Linked DNA regions of Homo sapiens. Changing the gene in region 1 together with any one later gene gives a genetic interaction. Each region holds a gene or a part of one and is shown in the gene's direction. Other genes may lie near its edges.

The links.
Region 2: changes in EED (region 1) and SEC24B together harm fitness more than expected from each alone (negative genetic interaction), as found in Homo sapiens cells (one large-scale study listed by BioGRID).
Region 3: changes in EED (region 1) and MAN1A1 together harm fitness more than expected from each alone (negative genetic interaction), as found in Homo sapiens cells (one large-scale study listed by BioGRID).
Region 4: changes in EED (region 1) and HNRNPD together harm fitness less than expected from each alone (positive genetic interaction), as found in Homo sapiens cells (one large-scale study listed by BioGRID).

Annotation. Positions count from the first base shown.
Region 1 is NC_000011.10:86,260,576-86,265,773, forward strand, and holds part of EED (polycomb protein EED), read left to right. Parts: intron 1-3,596; coding exon 3,597-3,688; intron 3,689-5,198. UniProt on the Homo sapiens protein: Polycomb group (PcG) protein. Component of the PRC2/EED-EZH2 complex, which methylates 'Lys-9' and 'Lys-27' of histone H3, leading to transcriptional repression of the affected target gene.
Region 2 is NC_000004.12:109,460,515-109,465,712, forward strand, and holds part of SEC24B (protein transport protein Sec24B), read left to right. Parts: intron 1-2,386; coding exon 2,387-3,130; intron 3,131-5,198. UniProt on the Homo sapiens protein: Component of the coat protein complex II (COPII) which promotes the formation of transport vesicles from the endoplasmic reticulum (ER).
Region 3 is NC_000006.12:119,198,864-119,204,061, reverse strand, and holds part of MAN1A1 (mannosyl-oligosaccharide 1,2-alpha-mannosidase IA), read left to right. Parts: intron 1-2,714; coding exon 2,715-2,808; intron 2,809-5,198. UniProt on the Homo sapiens protein: Involved in the maturation of Asn-linked oligosaccharides. Progressively trim alpha-1,2-linked mannose residues from Man(9)GlcNAc(2) to produce Man(5)GlcNAc(2).
Region 4 is NC_000004.12:82,363,094-82,368,291, reverse strand, and holds part of HNRNPD (heterogeneous nuclear ribonucleoprotein D0), read left to right. Parts: intron 1-5,198. UniProt on the Homo sapiens protein: Binds with high affinity to RNA molecules that contain AU-rich elements (AREs) found within the 3'-UTR of many proto-oncogenes and cytokine mRNAs.

The DNA of each region.
Region 1 (5,198 bases):
TTTTGAAGAGGGACTGTCATTCTATAAAATTGTGCATGATATATGTAGTTATGTTTTCAGCTTACTGTAAAAATCATAAATCTCAGTCCCCTTTCAATTTTTTAATGTGAGTATGGTGAAGGGAAAAGCTAGTATCTTGTTCTGTGGGATAAAATTGCTTATGTCAAATCTGTATTTTATTTCAAAAGTATATTTCCATCAAATTAGGTTATTTAAAGAAAGTTATTTGAGATAAATATGCTTAAAATATTTTTCAGACCACATGAATATTTCTGAACTTACTGTCTTAGTCCACTTTAACCTGGCATTAGAAAGTAAGAACAAGAAATTGAACTTGAAGCCTTTTTTTTTTTTAATATATAATTGGAATTAATTCATTCATAAGAGTGGTACTCTCATGACCTAACGCTTCTCATTAGGTCTCATCTCCCAACACTGCTGCATTGGGATTAAGTTTCCCAACCTGCTTTTTCGGGGGTTCATTTAAGCTGTAGCATTCTGCCTCTAGCCCCCAAAATTCAAATCCTCAATCAGATATGGGTGAGACTCAAGGCAGGATTCCTGCTGAGGTAAATTCTCCATCTGTGGGTCTGGGAAATCAGGCATCTTATCTATTTTCAAAATACAGTGGTAGGATAAGCATAGGATAGACAGTCCCTTCCAAAAAGGAGAGATAGGCAAGAATAAGGGTAACTGGTCCCAAGTAAATCCAAAACTCAACAGAACAAACAAGATTAAATCCAAGGCACCAGAATAATCTTCCTTGGCTCCATGTTTTGCCTTCTGGGCATGCTGGGTGTGGAGTTTGGGCCCCAGAGGCCTTGGGCAGCCCCATCTTTATGGGTTTGCCACGTGCAGCCCACATAGCATCTTATGAGTTGGAGTCGGGTGCCTGCAGCTCTTGCAGGCTGGTGGTGTGCCCTGGTAGCTCAGCAGTTCTGGGATTTGGGGGATGGCTTTTTCCCCATGGCTCCACCAGGTGTTGCTGTAGTAGGAACTGCTGTGTGGCTCTGCCCTTCTGAAAAGTTTCTGCCTGGAGCCCCAGGCTCTTTGTGATGTCTTTTGAAATCTAGAGAGGAAGCCGTGCCTCCACAGTTCCTGCATTCTCTGCATCTGCAGACTTAACACCACATGGACACTGCCAAGATTTGCTGCTTGTACCTTCAGAAGCTATGGCCTGAGCCATACTTGAGCCCCTTCAAGCTATGGGGTGACCAAAGAGCACTGCCTTGGAATAGGGGGAGCAAAGTGCTGAAGTGGCCCTGGACAGTGAATGTAGAGGTCCCATGGGTGCTACTCTGGAAACCTTGCCCTCAAGGTCTTAGCTATGTCTTGAAGATCTCTGAAATGCCTTTGTGGTCATTATCCCATTGTCTTGGTGAATAGAACCTGCCTTCTCTTCCCTATTAATCTCCTTAGCAATTAGTCACTTAGCTACATCCTTAATATTCTCTCTCAAACATGCTTTTTTATTTTATATATTTTTTGAAGAGACAAGGACTTGCTATGTTGCCCAGGCTGGTCTTGAACTTCTGGGCTCAAATGATCCTTCCACCTCAGCCTTCGAAAGTGTTGGGATTACAGGTGTGAGCCACCACACCCAGCCTGCTTTTTTTTTCTTTACATGGCCAGGCTGAGAGTTTATAAATGTTTCTGTTTTGCTTTCCTTTTTAATTACAAATTTCACCTTTAGATCATTTCTCATTTTATGATAAGCAGCCAGAAGAAGCCATGCATCACTGTGAATGCTTTGATGCTCAGATATTTCTTCTGCCAGGTATTGGATTCATTGCTCTTAACTTCTGCCTTCCACAAAGTCCTAGGGCATGGACACAGTCCTGCTAAGTTCTTCACAACTGTATTGCAAGGATGGCTTTTATTTATTTATTTAATTTATTTTTTTGAGGCAAGGTCTCATTCTTGTCACCCAGGCTGGAGTGCAGTGGCACAACCTCTGCTCCCTCACACCCTCTCCTTCCCTTTTGCTGTGAGACGATTCAGCATGAAGGCCCTCACCGGATGCCGGCACCATGCCAGTGATCCTTCCACTTCAGCCTCCCGAGTAGCTGGGACTACAGGCACATGCCACCACACCCCGCTAGTTTTTGTATTTTTTGTAGAGATGGAGTTTCACCATGTTGCCCAGGCTAGTCTCGAATTCCTGAGCTCAAGTGTCCACCCACCTCAGCCTCCCATGCTGCTGGAATTACAGGCATGAGCTACCACACCTGGCCTGGCTTTTTTTTTTTTTCTTTTAAAGACAGGGTTGGTCTCTGTCACCCAGGCAGTGCAGTGGCATGATCATAGCTCACTGCAGCCCAAAACTCCTAGGCTCAATTGATCCTCTTGCCTCAGTCCCCTAAGTAGCTAGAACTGCAGGTACACGCCACCACACCTGGCTAATTTATTTTCTGTAGGGATTGGGTCTCACTATGTTACCCCGGCTGGTCTTGAATTCCTGGCCTCAAGTGATCCTCCTGCCTCAATCTCAAAGTGCTGGGATTACAGGCATGAACCATCACACCCTGCCAACAGGGATAGCTCTTACTCCATTTTCCAATAACTTCTCATTTCTGTCTGAGACCTCACTGAATGAGACCAACCTCATTCTGTCTGAGACCAACATTGTTCTACCAACATTCTGATCACAACCACTTAAGTAATCCTTAAGAAGATAAAGGCTCTGCCTGAAGCTCTTGTCTTCTTTTCAGCCCTCACTGGAATTACCCTCAATGCTCCACTCACACCAATATAGGCTTTTTCTAGCCTGCTCCTCCAGATTCTTCCAGCCTCTCCTCGTTACCCAGTTCCAAAGTCATTTCCACATTTTCAGGTATTTATAGCAATAGTCCCGTTTCTGAGTACCAACATTCTGTCTGAGTCCATTTTGTGCTGCTATAACACAATACCACAGACTAGGTGACTGACTGATGGATTAATTAATTTCTTTTCTATTGCTCAGGCTTCACTAATTTTTAAATTTTTTGTTGAGACAGGGTCTTGCTATATTGCTAGGGCTAGTCTCAAACTCCTGGGCTTAAGCAGTCCTCCCATCTTGGCCTTCTGAAGTGCTGGGGTTACAAGCATGAGCCACCGTACCTGACTGGGTGATTTATAATGAACAAAAATTTATTTGGCTCCTGTTTCTGGAGACTGGGAAGTCCAAGAACATGGTGCCGGCATCTGGTGAGAGCCTTCATGCTGAATCGTCTCAGCAAAAGGGCAGGAGAGGGTGTGAGGGAGCAAGAGATTGAATTTATAGCCTCAGGCCCTTTTATAATCAGTATTAATCCATTTGTGAGGATGGAGCCCCCATGACCTAAATACCTCCCATTAGGCCCCAGCTCACACCACTATTGCATTGGGGATTGAGTTTCTAGCACATGCTTTTGGGGGGGCCTATTCAAACTATAGCACTTACCTAGCTAATTCTACATCTGATGTAAACATTTTAAGTTGCTATGTAATATGGATTCCATTTTTAGGCTTTACTGTGCATAACTTACATCTAGACTTTAGTAGTTTTTCTTTCACAAGATGTTGAAAGTTCACAGTAAATAAAAAACATTCGCCTAATTTTTGTATGTTTATACTAGATCATGCTTTACGATTATGGAATATCCAGACGGACACTCTGGTGGCAATATTTGGAGGCGTAGAAGGGCACAGAGATGAAGTTCTAAGTGCTGTAAGTTGGAAACTGCAGGGCAATGACTTTCAGGTTTACATAGCTGTGAACAGTCTCCATGGAACTGTTTCCTTATAAGAAAGTGTGTTTCATGTAGCCTGTCAGGCAGACATTCACTTACATTTGACATAGAAGATTTTAATCTCCAGATGAAGGAATAAAACAAGTAAAGACTATATTTATTTATTTATTTTTTAAATTACTTGCACTGTATACCAATCCCTGGAGTCTTATGAGAGCAGTATGATCTTGCTCCTTTCCTTTTAATCTAAAATCACTAAGTTAATGTTTGTTTTGCCATTTCGCAGTTATTAAAGAAAAAAATTAAACTATGTAGCCATTAAAGTGCTTTTCCATCTTTTGTTTGAAGTTGAAACATAACGTTTTTTGCTATTTGGAAGTGTTTTATTGTGCTCACACTGTTTTAGGTAACTTATTTCTAGCCATTCTCTTTGGGTGGCGTGGTATAATACAAGACCAGTTTAAAGATAAATACCACCTTTATATTGATGTATTGTAATCCATTGGTCCATTATACAAGTGTTTTTAGTTAGGTTTCAGATTTTAACATTATTTTTGCTTATGTTCCATATTTAGCTCATTTGATTCCTGTAGTAATTTCACATCTCTTAGGTTGTTTTCCATTAAACTATGTAAAGGGGCACCATATTTTACAGCATGTAACATTTTAGTTGAAGGTACTAAAATATTCCTATGTTGAAGTTTGGATTCCTTTGTGAGAATCATACCTTCCTTCGAATACCTTGTCAACTTGGATTTCCTAAAAGTTGCAGTAGCATTCTACGTCTGGCTTTATGTGTGTAAAAGCCAAGTGAACTGTTCTTTATTAATAACTCCAAATTAGTGGTATTGTCTCGAAGGATGTCTTGTTGCTGTTGACAGTGAGGTAATTAGAAGTACCACAACTGTGAATTCAATAAACATCAAGCCTAAAGTTCTTAGGCTCTTATAAAATGGTGCTCATAATTAATGCAAAGGCTGGATTAACATATAGTATCTAGGTTAGTAAGGAAAATATACTCCTTCAATAGAACTCTCTACTGTTATTTCTTAGAATGAGAGCAGGAGACAGTATGTAGCTCTTCTGTGTAATACAGGAGTTCACTGGAGGTGGATAGGTGTGTGAGATTTTCATTACTCATTATGTGCCTTTTGCTAAATTAAATAGCATCTCTGGGCCTTAGTGTCTGCCTATGAAATGAGGTTGTTACAATAGATGATCTGTTACATGCCTGTTAAAAATTAGTAAACAGCAAATGAAAAAAGTTAAAATCTGTTTTTTATTAGACTTTTAAAAATTCACTTAAAAGTGAACTCTAAAACTAACTTCAAAATATTTTGACTTAGAATTATAAAGTAAGATGTCAGCTCTTTAAGGATTCATGTATTTTCACATGCACATGTCAGTTTCATTGGTTGGTTGAGGTTGGATAGGAAAAGTAATATCACTATTCAGCTCTTTGTGTCAGAATAATTATTTTAACTTAGT
Region 2 (5,198 bases), on another chromosome or scaffold:
TTTTTGGGACAATTGGCCATTTGTAGCAAAGGACAGCAGATCATTGGTTAAGAGCATAAACTTGAGCCAGATTGCCTGATTCAAATTCCGGCCCATTTAGTTCCTAAGCATGTAACTGTGTTAAACATCTTGACTTTTGTGGCTCACTTATTGATAAATGGGTATAATAATACTATTTACTTTAGAGGATTAAAGAAGTTAATATATGTAAAGCATTTAGAACAGTGAATGGCATATAATGTAATATATTAATATATTAATATTAATAAGACTAATATTAGGATTAATGTTTTGTTGGTATTAATAAAATAAATATATGCTATACTTATCAAAGATATATAAAGATGAAAGTATAAAACACTAGAGTAAAACATGGTTTTATAGTTTTATAATCTTGAAATGAAGAAACCTCTACTAAGTATGATTTAAAAATCTGTCAAGCATAAAAAAAGAATTTTACTACATAATCAAGAAACTATAGCAAAAGATACCATGAACAAAGTGAAAACATAACAGTAACCTGGGGGAAATACTTACAGCACATAACATTAGGCTAATTTTCTACTGTGTGAGAACAGCTAGAAATCATTAAGGAAATCGCAATGCTACAGAAAAAGCAAACAGCAGAGAAAGACACCCAAATGAGAGTCTCAGCATCATTCAAAGTTAACTACTGTAAACTAAAGTGTTTCTCACTTTTCAGATTGGCAGAGATTAATATATAGTCAGTATTGGGACAATGAGGCAATATGAAGCATTATTGATGGGAGGTATAAATTGATAGACCTTTTAAGAGATATTTGCCAATAATGTCAATTTTAAAAACATAAACCTTTTGAACTTCCAGTTTGACTTCTAGAAATTTGTCTTATAGCTTCATCATAAAAGTTGACCTCATAAATATAGATTAGTTCAACCCCAAGATATTCATCAATGGAGATTTGGTGAATAATGTTATATCTCTACAATAAAGTACTATATGTAAATTTTTAAAAGAATAATGAGGATTTATATATGCTAATACTTAAGGATATTCAGCATATATTAAGTAAAAGCAAGTTGCGGAACTGTAATATCCTTTTTGTGTGTTTAAAAAATCAAGTAAATTATATACATGCTTACATATGCATTACATAGATACATGGATATACAGAGGATGCATAAGCATTAACTGTAACTATATCTGGGAAATAGGATATAAGCTACTAGGCAGAGATTTTTAATTCATACTCTTTATTGTTTGAATTTTTTCTACAGTGGGTATATTGTTACTTTTCTAGTTAGGAAAAATAAAAACTGAGAAAAAAGTTTTAGCTGTGTGCAGTGGCTCATGCCTATAATCCCAGCATTTTGGGAGGTTGAGGGAGGAGAGTCACTTGACTCTAGGAGTTTAAGACCAGCCTGGGCACACAGTGAGACCCTGTCTCTACAAGAAAATAAATTTAGAAACATTGGCTGGGCCGTGGTGTATGGGAGACCAGCCTGGGCAACACAGTGAGAGCCTGTCTCTGTAAAAAATAAATAAGTAAAAATTAGCTGGTCACCATGGTGCACGCCTGTGGTCCCAGCTGCTCGGGAGGCTGAGGTGAGAAGATTGCTTGAGCCCAGGAGAACAAGGCTGTAGTGAACCATGATCATGCCATCGCGCTCTATAGCCATCACACTCTATAGAGCCTGGGGTCAGAGCGAGACCCTGTCTCAAAGTTTAAACTTCTTCCAGGATGGGTATATTAGTTACTGATAGCTGCATAACAAAATACCCCCTAAGCTTAACAACTTGTAAAACAACAACTATTTATTTCACAGTTTCTCAGGAAGATAAACTTGGGAGCAGCCTAGCTAGGTGGTTCTGGCTCAGGGTCTCTCATGAGATAACCTGTTGGCTGGGCTATAGTTATCTCAAGATTCTACTGAGTTTGGAGGATCTGCCTGAAAGCTCAGTCGTGGTTGTTGGCAGATCTTAGTTTCTCTTTGGCTGTTGGCCAGAGAGTTAAGTTCCTCCTTGCATGGGCTTCTTCATAGGGCTGTTCACGGCTTGGCAGGTTAGCTTCTTTCAGACTGGGGTATCTGAGAGAAAGAGAGCCAGAGCTCAAGACTGGGCTAACATGGAAGTGACATATCATCACCTTTGCCGTATGCTACTGTTCATACAGACCAGTCCTGGTACATTGTGAGGGAGGACTACAAGGGTGTGAATAACAGGAGGTGGGGATCATTGGGGGCCATGTTGGAGGCAGGCTACCATAATGGGTCTATAACAGTGTATACCTTTTGTAATAAGTTGGGATTATGGAAAAGAAAGTTAATTGCTTCAATATTTAAATGGGGGCTATTTTTAAAAATTAGTTATCTCTTTACAAATACCTGTAAATACTTGCTTTTTCAGGTCCAGCCCAGAATCAAATGCAGGTTCCATCTGGATATGGATTGCATCATCAAAACTATATTGCTCCCTCAGGACATTACTCTCAAGGACCTGGGAAAATGACCTCATTGCCATTGGATACCCAGTGTGGTGATTACTACTCTGCTCTCTATACAGTACCAACACAAAATGTGACTCCTAACACAGTGAACCAGCAACCAGGAGCACAGCAGTTGTACAGCAGGGGTCCTCCTGCCCCTCATATTGTGGGATCCACTCTAGGATCTTTCCAAGGTGCTGCATCGTCAGCATCCCATTTGCATACGAGTGCCTCCCAACCATACTCCTCTTTTGTGAATCACTACAATAGTCCAGCCATGTACTCTGCCAGCTCTTCTGTTGCGTCTCAGGGATTTCCCTCTACTTGTGGTCATTATGCTATGTCAACTGTTTCTAATGCCGCGTATCCTAGTGTTTCATATCCCTCTCTGCCTGCTGGTGATACATATGGGCAAATGTTTACCTCACAGAATGCTCCGACTGTTAGGCCAGTTAAAGATAATTCATTCTCTGGTCAAAATACAGCTATCAGCCATCCATCGCCACTTCCACCTCTACCATCACAACAGCACCACCAGCAGCAAAGTCTTTCAGGATACAGTACTCTAACGTGGTCATCTCCAGGCCTTCCATCGACTCAAGACAATCTCATCCGAAACCACACAGGATCCCTGGCTGTAGCGAACAACAACCCAACCATTACTGGTAGGTTGAATGAAAAGTTCACCAAAACATGTTTGAAAATCAGTGCATTCCCAATTAAGTTATTATTTACATGAAGGTTAGAGGTGATATTGCCTAATAGAAAAACTGGAAGTTTGCTAATTTATTGTGGCTTTTTGTAGCACCTCTTTGAACCCTTTCTTCTCATCCATTCCCAATTAGCCACCCAACCATCTGCCTTGTCTAGCTTGGTTCCTTGCCATGATCAGTCAACATTTATTGATATATTTTATACATCTGCAATAGTTGTCTTTAATGTGAATTAGATACAGGGCAAAATGGAAGGGTCTGTTTTGAGGATATGTTGGCCACTATTTTCTCTTTTATACTAGTTCAACCTTGGGACAGTTGTTTTTTTAGCCAGAGCCCCACTTACTTAGAAAAAAGGATGGTTTGCAGCAGTGCACTGGTTTCCCCAAGTTAGCCCCTATTAGTGACTTTTGCAGAAGACATCTTTCCTGCACGTAAACAGTGTTTCTCATTTTCAGATTAGTAAGTTAGGCTGAAAGATGGGGAAGGGAAAGGAAGATGCATGAAGAATACCCTGGTATTCAGCCCTTCTGACCTTCCTAAACCAAGGTGTTGTTAAATTTTTTCATTTAAAAATTATGTATGTAAGACGTGGCTTGCCCTTTTTTTTTTTTTTTGACACAGGGTCTCACTTTATCACCCAGGCTGGGCATGATCTCAGCTCACGGCAGCCTTGACCTCCTGGGCTCAAGCGATCCTCCCATCTCAGCCCCACAAGTAGCTGGGACTACCAGGCATACGCCACCACACCCAGCTAATTTTGTAGAGATGGGGTTTTGCCATGTTGCCCAAGCTGGTCTCGAACACGCGAGCTACTGTGCCTGGCCCAATGTGGCTTTTTAAGTGCAGTGTTTCCTTTCCCTAGGATATATTCATTTTAATTCAATTTGTGACTTGAATTTAACAGAATCTGCTTTTGAACCGAATGAAAATGCATGTAAAAAATGGGAATTGGTAAAGCTGTGGTAACTTTTGGAATGATGCCTTTAGATTGTGTATCATTATCTGGATAGCCATGTGTCAAAGATGCTGTGGAAAGATATCCTTCTCTGGACAATGAGATTATTTAAAATTAGAACTTTAATATTAGACCCAAGCTGTACATTTGAGATCATCTACTCTTTCATTGCTATGTCGTTTAGAAATGCTTTCAGATACAAGCAGCTAATAGTAGTTTAAACAAAAAGGGGGTATTTTCCTCACATCACAAGTCTAGGTGGATGCAGTGGATCCCGCTGTTCTTGGTATCCTTTTTTCTCTTTCCACTCTGCCACCTGCAGCATGTAGGTTATAGAAACAAGATACTTCTGTACCTATAGACATTAAGTCAGAATTAAAAGCACCAAGAAGGGAGAGGAAAGGGGACTGGTTAGTGGCATTGACAGACTTCATTTTACAGATCATTTGCCATAGCTGTTTAAAAGACCATTCCTAGCTTCAGGGAAGGCTGGAAAATGAATATTGAATCTTTTTTTTAGCATCCATAGTAGAGGCGAACAAGAAAAAAGGGAGTTAGCACTGACTTGGGTGAGTCAACTCAAAGTGTCTGTCACAGTTCCGAAATCTGGCTGTCTACCAGAATCACTGGCACAGATTGTGATATTCAACTACAAATTACTGAGCTAGAATAGAATCTCCAGGGTACTCTTGAGAATCTATTTCTAACTGGATCTTCAGTGATGCTGTGAAACACATCTAAATTTTACTGTAGTCCTTTTGTTTTACAAATGAAGAAAGTTATCCAAGTTGAATTGCCTGTGGTCATTAATGGTAGAAACAGAGCTTGGCCTAGAGGTCAGTTTCTTCTGTCTCCCTCAGAACCAGGGCTTTCTGTCCTCTAGAAATTGTTTTCCTCTCTCTTCTTTCAACATTCTATTTACAGATCCACTTATCCTAAAGTCCTTCCAACTTAAGGATTTTGTGACTTTCATGACAAAGGAAATACAAGTAATTCCTATCTTAGTTCTGAGGTGGAAATAGCACCCTGGATGGAACTAATTTATATTGAGATGTGTCAGGG
Region 3 (5,198 bases), on another chromosome or scaffold:
AGTTTGTCTCCTCTTTTGCTGGATGCTCCTTCTGTCTTTTTTGTGTCCTCCTCAACACCCCACCCTCTAAATATTGGAAAGCCCTAGCACTCAATCCTGTGCCTCTGCTTGTTGATATTCACTCCCTACATTGTTGCATCTAGTCTCTGGGCTTTACATACCATCTCTATACTCTAGACTCCAAGTTTATTATTTCAGTCCCAACCTGTCCCCTGAACTCCAGACTCTATATCTGTTTATTAAACATCTCCACTAAGAGGCCCGATAGACAAGTCCCACTTAAAATGCCTCGGACTTAACGCCTAGACGTGCTTCTCCAGTCTTTGCTATCTTGGTAAATGACATCTCACTGTACCCAGTGGTCTCCTCCTGGTTCTTCTTCTTGGTAAACCCCAGGCCCAGTCCACTAAGAAATCCTTTGGGTGTCTCACTGCCTCTACTGCTGTCCTGATCTGGGATCCATCAGGTCACCTGGTGTACTGTATGTACACCATACAGTAGCCACCTGACCACCCCTTCCTCACCCCCTCAGCCTTCTCATGACACTCAGAGTAAAATATGCCCTTATTGTGGCCTGTGGGGCCTGGGTGACCTGGGCCCTGGCTCTCCTCTCCTCTACCTGCTGACATTCTCCCCTTTGTCTCCTCACCTCTGGCCTCAGTAGCATTGCAAACCTGCTGTCTCCTCAGGGCCTTTGTACTTGCTCCTCTCTCTGTTCCGAGTGCTCTTCCTCCACATTTCCACGTGGCCTACTCCCTCACTTCTTTAATATTCTGCTCAAACACCTCCGCCTTGCCAGGCCACTCTGACTAACATGGGATAGCCTCTCCACATCACCCTGTCCCGTTAACTCTCAATCAGCTCGGGTTACCATAACAAAAATGCAGCCAGAAACAACCGAAATTTATTTCTTACAGTTCTGGAGGCTGGGAAATCCAAGATCAAACTGCCCATGAGGTAGGTTTTATTCTGAGCCTCTTCCCTGGGCTTGTAGATGACGAGAACTGTCCCAGTGTGTGTTCACATGATGTCTTCTTTGTGCTCTGAGGGAGAGAAGGAGTCACAGAGAGAGAGAGAGAGCTCTTGTGTCTCTCATGAGGGCACTAATCCCATTTAAGGCTCTACCGTCATAACCTAATTACCATCTCCAAATAAATCTCCAAATACAATCACACTGGGAAGTAGGGTTTCAGCATATGAAATTAGGGGTATGCAGTTCAATCCATAGCACCCTTTTATTTTTTTCCACAGTATTTATCATCTCCTGACATACTATACAGTTAGGTGTTACTTAACAGTGTTTATTCAACAGTGGACCACATATGTGACAGTGGTCCTGTAAGTTTATAATGGAGTTGACAAAATTCCTACGGCCTTGTGACATCATAGTTGTCATAATGTCGTAGTGCAATGCGTTACTTACATGTTTGTGGTGGTGATGGCATAAACATACTCTACTCCCAGTCACATAAAAGTATAGCACATATAATTATGTACAGTACATAATATTTGATAATTAAATGACTGCATTACTGATTTATGTACTACTATGGTTTTTATTGTTATTTTAGAATGTACCACTTTTTTTTTAAGTTAGCTCTAGAAGCAAGGTCCTTCAAGAGGTATTCCTCTTCAAGGCATTATCATCACAGGAGTTGACAGCTCCATGCGTGCTACTGCCCCTGAAAGACCTTCCAGTGCGATAAGATGTAGAAGTGGAAGACAGTGATATTGATGGTCCTGTGGAGTCCTAAGCTAATGTGTATATGTGTCTTAGTTTTTAACAAAAAGTTTAAAAAGTTAAACAACTTTAAAAAGAAATTTTAAATAGAAAAAACTTATAAGAATATAAAGAAAGAAAATATTTTGGTACAACTATACAAAGTGTGTTTTAAGCTAATGGTTATTACAAAAGAGTCAAAATTTTTTTAATTAAAAAGTTTATAAAGTAAAATTACAGTAAACTAACGTTAATTTATTATTGAAAGAAAAATACTTTTATAAATGTATTAATAATGGCTAAGTGTACCATGTTTATAAAGTTTACAGTACTATACAGTAACGTCCCAGGCCTTCACATTCACTTATTACTCACTTACTAACTCATCCACTGCAACTTCCAGTCCTGCGAGTTTCATTCATGATAAATGCCCTATACAAAGTGCCCTGTATTTATGTATAGGGTTATAAAATGTATAACCCTATAGAAAGGTATCATTTTTCATCTTTTATAGTGTATTTTTCTGTGTTTAGATACACAAATACTTCAGTACAGTAACATATGCTACACAGGTTTGTAACCTAGAAACAGTAGGCTGTGCCAACTACATTTGTGACAGTGTGCTCTATGATGTTTGTACAAGAATTAAATTGCCTGTGTTTCCCAGCATGTATCCCTGTCATTAAGGGACACATGACTAGACTTATTGATTTATTGTCTGTCCCGTCCCACTAGGATGCACAATTCTAAGAGTGTGGTGACTTTGTTTATCCACTGGCCCCTTGTTCCTAGTATGGCATCTGGCTAATGGTAGATAACTAATCAGTGTGACTATATTCACTTACTGCCATTATGTTTGTAATAATAAGCTAACAGCAGTTATCTTTGTTCTAACTCTGCATCATTTAAGTCAACTTGTATGTTCAAGAAGAAGAAGAATGGCATGAAAATTGTTTTTTAGATTTTCACGGTAACATTTTATTTTCTATTATAGGTAATGAATATTCGAACAGTACTGAACAAACTGGAAAAACCACAAGGCCTTTATCCTAACTATCTGAATCCCAGTAGTGGACAGTGGGGTCAACGTAAGTCAGAAGATTTGCATTATTATAGCTCTTTTTGGTACTGTACTCGTGGAGAGAGAGGAAGCACAAAAGCAGCACAGATTTTGTTGAGAAATGTTTAGAAAAGGAGAAAAGGGCATGGCTCCTTTAATAAACAGGCTTCTGTCATCAGATTGTGTTATTAGGACACTGGATTGTGTATTTTTCATATATAACTCCAAGTGTGATGACATATAAGCACATTTACAGCTATTAATCAGAAAGGGAAGATCTGGCCAGAGTAGTGTGGGGATGTTAATCTGTAACAAGCTGGTCATGTGGATAGAAAGGAAATTCATTCCTTTGTACTAATGACTATGAGGGTTTTATAGAGAGTAGGTAGACCATTCTGCTTCCTAACATTCTGTTTCTGCATGGCTATATAATGAGAGAGGAGCCTGAATTTTTAAGAGTTGGGAAATTGGAAGAGCAAACAGCCTGTTTTTCTCTTCTTAATTTTAAGCTGCCAGATATAAAGGTTTCTTGCCAGTAGAATTACCTTTAGGATGGGAGAAAGTATTGCACAAGAACTTTTGATCCTAGAAGCCTGCACTTAAGACTCTTCAGACGATTTTGAGCAGGGGCATAAAGATTCAGAGTAGTTGAAAGAAATGTTCTCAAGCTGATTTGGAAAAACAGTAGTAGATTAAATAGCTGAAAACAAGTGAAGAATATTGAGATACCCAACTGTAGCAAGAGTACACTGCCTTAAGATTTTACTCTAATTTGGGTTTTTTCTTTATATTTTAATATCATGTTCTTAGATACCTCATTATTACTTTAGAAGTACTTTTCTTAAAGAATAGTTTAATAGGAAAGTATATGCCAAAATCCATATGCTAAAATATGTCTGTAGCTCTGGAAGGCCTAGCTGTTGAAACCTTAGGACTATAATCAAGGTTACCACTTACCTAAGTGTGGTCAACAGATCACTGGAAGTCCTTGAGACCTCTGAGGAGGCCCACAAGGTCAAAAATATTTTTATTATAATACTAGTATAATGATATATAATAACAAGACATATAATACATGTCTTAGTCATATTTACTAAGCCAGTACACAGTATCTTGCACTTAGTGGATGTTTACTTACTTAAATTTTGTGAATACATATGTGCTCTGTATCTCATCTCTCTTTCTGCCTCTGCTTTTAATAGTGGTACTTTGAAAGACTTTCTGCCTTTTCTAATGTGTTGATATTTACACCTACAGTGTTAGGTGATACTGCTGAAGCCTCACTGAGAACAAAGGCGAACAAACACCAAATAGTACTAATATTCATATTTTTTCTTTTTTTTTTCTTTTTTGTGGGACAGGGTCCCACTGTGTCACCCAGGCTGGAGTACAGTGTCATAATCTCAGCTCATTGCAACCTCTGCCTCCTGGGCTCAAGCTGGGCTCAAGCTATCTTCCCACCTCGGCCCCCCGCCCCGAGTAGCTGGGACTACAGGTGCACGATGCCATGCTCAGCCAATTTTTAATTTTTTTTTTTTTTGGTAGAGAGAAGGTCTCATATTTCCCAGGCTGGCCTCAAACTTTTAGGCTTGAGCGATCCCTTTGCCTTGGCCTCCCAAAGTGTTGGGATTACAGGCATGAGCCACCACACCAGCCCCCATTGTATTCTTAATAGCATTTTAAAAAAGGATACTGGTTTCACTTATGAATGTGCTTACTGAAACAGTAAAAAAAAAAAATTAGTGATTCTAATAAATACCAACCTGTGAGTACACACCTTTGTCATGTTCTGTGAGGTGAAATGGAAAATACTCATAAATCACTCCTGCTGAATTATGAAAAATGATAGTTGCATCAAGGAAAAGCTCTTGGGTGTTTTGAGTTGCAAGCTGAGCTAGCCACTTACTGTTTCACAGATTCAACATTTTTACTTGAAAGAACAATTTAAAAAATGATTATTTAGGCTAGGTAGTCAGGAGCCATGTTCTTGAAAATGAGCTTGTCACTTCAAGAAAAAGTCACAGTATTTGTGCCAATGATTATAATCCAAGTTTCTAAATAAAAAATAGAATTTTGGAAAACTTGTACATGCTACCATGAGCTTGACACAAATACTTTTCCTGTTAGATTGATGATGATATTAACAAATGTGGTTTTCTGATATTGTATAATGGAATGGGTCAATATTTGAAAGATCTGCATAGTTCAGTGAGCCAGGATTTTCCAAATGACCAAAGCATGATATTATAAGATCATATATGGAAAACAATCTGTGTAAAGTACAAGATAGACCAGTGGCTTTTAATGTAACAATACGAAAATTCATTGATGTAATTTCTAATTTTACAATGCAATTAACCTTTAAAAAAGAAACCACTTGTTGACTATTGTTGTAATATCAAAGAAAAATATCCACAA
Region 4 (5,198 bases), on another chromosome or scaffold:
TTTTGAGTATACTATTGAGTATACATTTGAGTATACATATTGAGTATACTATTTATGCCAACGTGAAGGATGTGATTAGTTTTAGCCTTCAAGTCATAATACATACCATGCTTGAAAGCATTTAAAAAGGAATAGAGTAATTTTTTTTCCCATTCCACTTGGAAGCTGTGTACCTCAAGTGTGTGCACATTTACAAATGGGTGAAACATAACTTATGTTAGTCCAAGCTTGATTTGACTTCAGTTCTGCTTCAACGTTTTAGTAGATAGGGCACTGAACTGGATGCTGAAAGCGTGGGATCTCTTTCTGTTGCTTCACTTCCAACAGTGTGGTTTCAGGTAATACGACATGTTTGTTACTTGGTTTGCTGATCTATGTGTTGGAAACAATGCTCACCACAGGAGGATTGACTACATAGCCTGCTTTCATAGCTTGTGTGTATTTATCCAGTGCCCTAATAGTTGATACTGCCAGTGATTTACTCCTGTGGAGTAAAGGTAAGCATGTTTTAGTTTCTGGAGTATTATATTGTACGTTGGAGCTAGGTATTTAAGAATATTTGGGGGTGGGGAGGGAAGACTCCAATTTACTGGTGGTGCTTGGCCAGTAATCAAGGTGACAGTTTAAGTATTGGGTCTTGCACTGTAAACTCCTGCTTATCTAGACTTCAGACTACCACAGAGCCCACACAGCCAGGAAGTCTGTCTCCCCATTTAGTCTTATGAGCAAGATAGATGAAGCCATGAGAAAATATACTCAAAAAGCAACCAACAGACAATGTCATGGAATGAATCTCCTACAGATTTTTCCTTACACTTTTGAAAAGTAACATGATTTTAAAACGTTGGAAAATTCATCAAGGTACAAATCATTTTCTGACTTCAGCATTGATACCTAAATTGATTTCCAGTACACAGTTTTATAGAATTGTGAATATGTAGTAATCTCAGTTAACCAGAACCTTAACCTTCAGGTTAAGGAAAATACCTATTCCTTAACCTCTAGGTAAATGGGAGTTTACCTTACAAAGCTGATTGAGAGCTTATTTAAAACGTAAACATACAAGATGTCATTGCTTCCTTGTAGTGAAGTGAAAAGGAGGTATTGGATTAAGCATTTAAAGTTAATTAAAGTAGTGGCTCGTGCCTGTAATCACTGGCTACTCAGAAGTCTTGAGGTATGAGGATCATTTCATGCCAGGATTTCTAGACCAGCTAGGCAACATAATATGACCCCTGTTTCTTTAAAAAAAAAAAAAAAAAAAAGGCTAGTGTGTTGGGGGGTGTGTTTGTAGTTGTAGTTACATCTACTCAGGAGGCAGAGGCAGGAGAATGTGTTGAGCCCAGGAAGGAGCTCAGGGCTGCAGGAAGCTATGATGGAGCCACTGCATTTTGATAGTGAGACCTGGTCTCTTAAAGTGTTTTATTTTTAGGCCAGGCGTAGTGGCTCACACCTGTAATCTCAGCACTTTGGGAGGCCAAGATGGGTGGATCACCTAAGGTCAGGAATTGGAGACCAGCCTGGCCAACATGGCGAAACCCCAGCTCTACTAAAAATACAAAAATTAGCCAGGTGTGGTTACATGCGCCTGTAGTCACTCAGGAGGCTGAGGCGGGAGAATCACTTGAACCCTGGAGGCGGAGGTTGCAGTGAGACAAGGTTGCACCACTGCATTCCAGCTTGGGCAACAGAGCAAGACTCCGTCTCAAAAAAAGAAAAAAAAAGTTTATTTAAAAAACTGTCATGTTGGCCGGGCGCGGTGGCTTATGCCTGTCATCCCAGCACTTTGGGAGGCTGACGCAAGCGAATCACCTGAGGTCAGGAGTTCGAGACCAACCTGGCCAACATGTTGAAACCCTGTCTCTACTAAAAATACAGAAATTAGCCGGGCATGATGGTGGGCATCTGTAGTCCCATCTACTTGGGAGGCTGAGGCAGGAGAAGAGCTTGAACCCGGGAAGCAGAGGTTGCAGTGAGCCAAGATCGCGCCACCGCACTCCAGCCTGGGCGACAAAGCGAGACTCTGTCCCCCTCCCAAAAAAACTGTCATGTTTCATTTATTAGATGTTTATTTTTTCAACTTCGCTTTTTAGTAGTCATTTAGTTAGGTTCATTCTAAAGTGTGAAGTAATGAGATTTAATACAGAGAAGTCTCTGAAAATGTTTGGTCCATTGTATATTAGTCTTGAATAAATGGAATTCTTTTTCACACTTACCTTGAAAATGTCATCTGTAGAAAGCTGGGGGAGAGGAATACCTATTCTTTAATGATGGGGAAATAATACCAAAATTTATATTTTTATTGACTAAAGTGTTTTTTGGGGAAGATTTGTTATTGGCTAACCTTAATGTCTCATTAGTTTTAAATAGTTAAAAAAAGTGGGCTGGGTGCGGTGGCTCACGCTTGTAATATAGCACTTTGGGAGGCTGAGGTGGGCAGATTGAACCCAGGAGTTCCAGACCAGCCTGGGCAACATGATGAGATCCTGTCTCTACAAAAAAAAAAAAAAAAAAAAAAAATTAGCTGGGCCTCGTGGTGTGCACCCATAGTCTCAGCTACCCAGGAGCTTGAGATGGGAAGATTGCTTGAACTTGGGAGGCAGAGGTTGAAGTGAGCCAGGATCACACCATTGCACCACAGCCTGGCAATAGAGCGAGACTCTGTCTCAAAAAAGTGGTTTTCATGAATTTTATACCAGATCAGATCTAAAAAGGCTGGTTAGTATTTGAACTCGATGAAAGCTTGTCAAGCTCTCTCCCAAGGTAGTTTTCATACAACTTGTAAAATACCCTAACGTGTGATATTATCTAGTTGCATTGTAACCTCCTCCCTTCCCCTTAGGTAACTAGTGACTTAGCTTTAGTTTGTCATTTTAGGATTTTAGAAGAATAATTATGATGGATAAAATACTGGAAAAATTCAGTAAGGATTTAATGGTGTGCTTGAGTAACATTACTTTAAAAGATGACAGTGATTGGTCATTTATGTTTTATACCTGAAATGTATATCAGGTTGACATTCTGTTGTATTTTTTAAACTGTCAGAACTTGTTATAAAGCCATGTATGTAAGATCATAAGTTGTTAGGAAGTGTTTAAAAGTTAAAGGATTGGCTGGGTGTGGTGGCTCATGCCTGTAATCCTAGCACTTTGGGAGGCTGATCGCTATGTCCAGGAGTTCTGTGACTAGCCTGGGTAACAGAGCAAGATCTCGTCTCTAAAAAAGTAAAAATAATACGAAGTTATAGAACATAGAAAAAGAATACTATTCCAAAATTGGGAGTGAGTATAATGGCTAACTTTTTACCTTGAATAAGGTGTTTGACAATAAAGACTTATTAGGGGAGGTATCTTGGAATAAAATAGTTAATATTGACTGGGAATGTTAAAAACCTAGTGACCTAAATAGTCCAGAGAATAAGTTTATTGATGGGGAAAAGCCAGGATTATTAAATCGGAACATTTTCCACCAGCCAGGATTGCTCCATGTATATTTCCTTTTATGTTTTAAATTATTCTTTACTAAAATTACTGGCATAAATGTAGGGTAGACCAAGTCATCAAGGTGATTTTGGAAGCTACATTTAAAGGGTCTTAGTTGAAATACCACCTAATTTTTAGTTTATATATTTTTTTACATGGACTATTTAAAAATTTCTGGGTTATTTCAAGTTGGCAGCATTGAAAATATTAGAATATGTTTATATAAAACTCATTGTGGCCTTTTCCTTTTAATGTTGGAAAGTTTATAAAGCCTATGCAGTTTTAAAAAATTAAGCCATTGAGTAAATAAAAAGTTTGCTTTATTAAATTATGTTTAGATAGTGCTTATAGTGCTTTACCCCTTCAAAATAGTAACTTCTATCAATCATTTAGGATGTGTGTCAGACTATTCTGTGTCCTTTAAGTGTGTTAACTAGTTTTAACCCTCTGCAAATATCTGAGGTATGCTCTTTTTACAGATGGGAAAACAATCTTGGACTTTAATATTTTTTCTTAATGTTACACAATTAGTAAGAGGCAGGGGGCCAGGTGGAGTGGTTCATGTTTGGAATTCCAGCACTTTGGGAGGCTGAGGTGGGCAGCTTGAGCCCAGGAGTTGGAAGACTAGCCTGGGCGACATAGTAAAACCTGATCTCTGCAAAAATATTAGCCGGGTGTGTTGGTGGGTGCCTGTAGTCCGAGCTACTGGTGAGGCTGAGGTGGGAGGACCAACTGAGCCCAGGAGGTCAAGGCTGCAATGAGCTGTCATGGAGCCAGTGCACTCCAGCCTGGGAGACAGAGTGAGACCCTGTCTTAAAAAAAGGCAGCAGTAGGGTTTAAACCCCGGCATTTTGTCTTTATTGCCTCTAAACTTAACTTGCTTTAAAAGATGATAAAATGTCCCACAAAGGAGCCTAAATTCCTGAATGATACTGCATATCACTTGGATAGTTATCTATGCTGAGTTGTATAACTTTATGCTTGTCATTTAATTTTACAATTTGGTGGAAGCCAATGTGAAAGCAAGGAGACTTCTGTTGTGGAGTAGGTGTTTTAAACTGAATACCATATTCAGCCTTGGGGTGCTGAATATTTAGTTCACAGCTAGGATTAAGATACTCAACTATGTTAATAAAATACAGTAGATGAAGTCCTGCATTTTAATTGGGATTGATTCACTTAGAACTAAGGATCAAAGTTTAAACTTATTGCAGCGTTAGGGGCCATCTTTGTTGCTAGTTGAACAAGTCTTGGTCGTTTTTAACATGGCTCCTTAGGGTATTTTCTGAAGTTCTGTCTACTTCATTGGAAAGTGTTTGCACTACGCAGGAGTGACAGCAATATGAAATGCTTTGTATTCAAGGCAGCAGAGGTAATCTGGACAGACAGTACATGTGCTTTAAAAGCAAGATACAGTCATAGAAAATATGTAGATAATTTAGCCGGGCATGGTGGCTCGCGCCTCTAATTTGGGAGGCCGAGGCAGGTGGATCACGAGGTCAGGAGTTCGAGACCAGCCTGACCAATATGGTGAAACCCCATCTCTACTAAAAGTGCAAAAAAAAATTAGCCTGGCATGGTGGCATGCACCTGTTATCCCAGCTACTCAGGAGGCTGAGGCAGGAGAATTGCTTGAACCCGGGAGGTGGAGGTTGCAGTGAGCCTAGATCATGCCATTGCACTCCAGCCCGGGCGACAGAGTGAGACTCTGTTTAA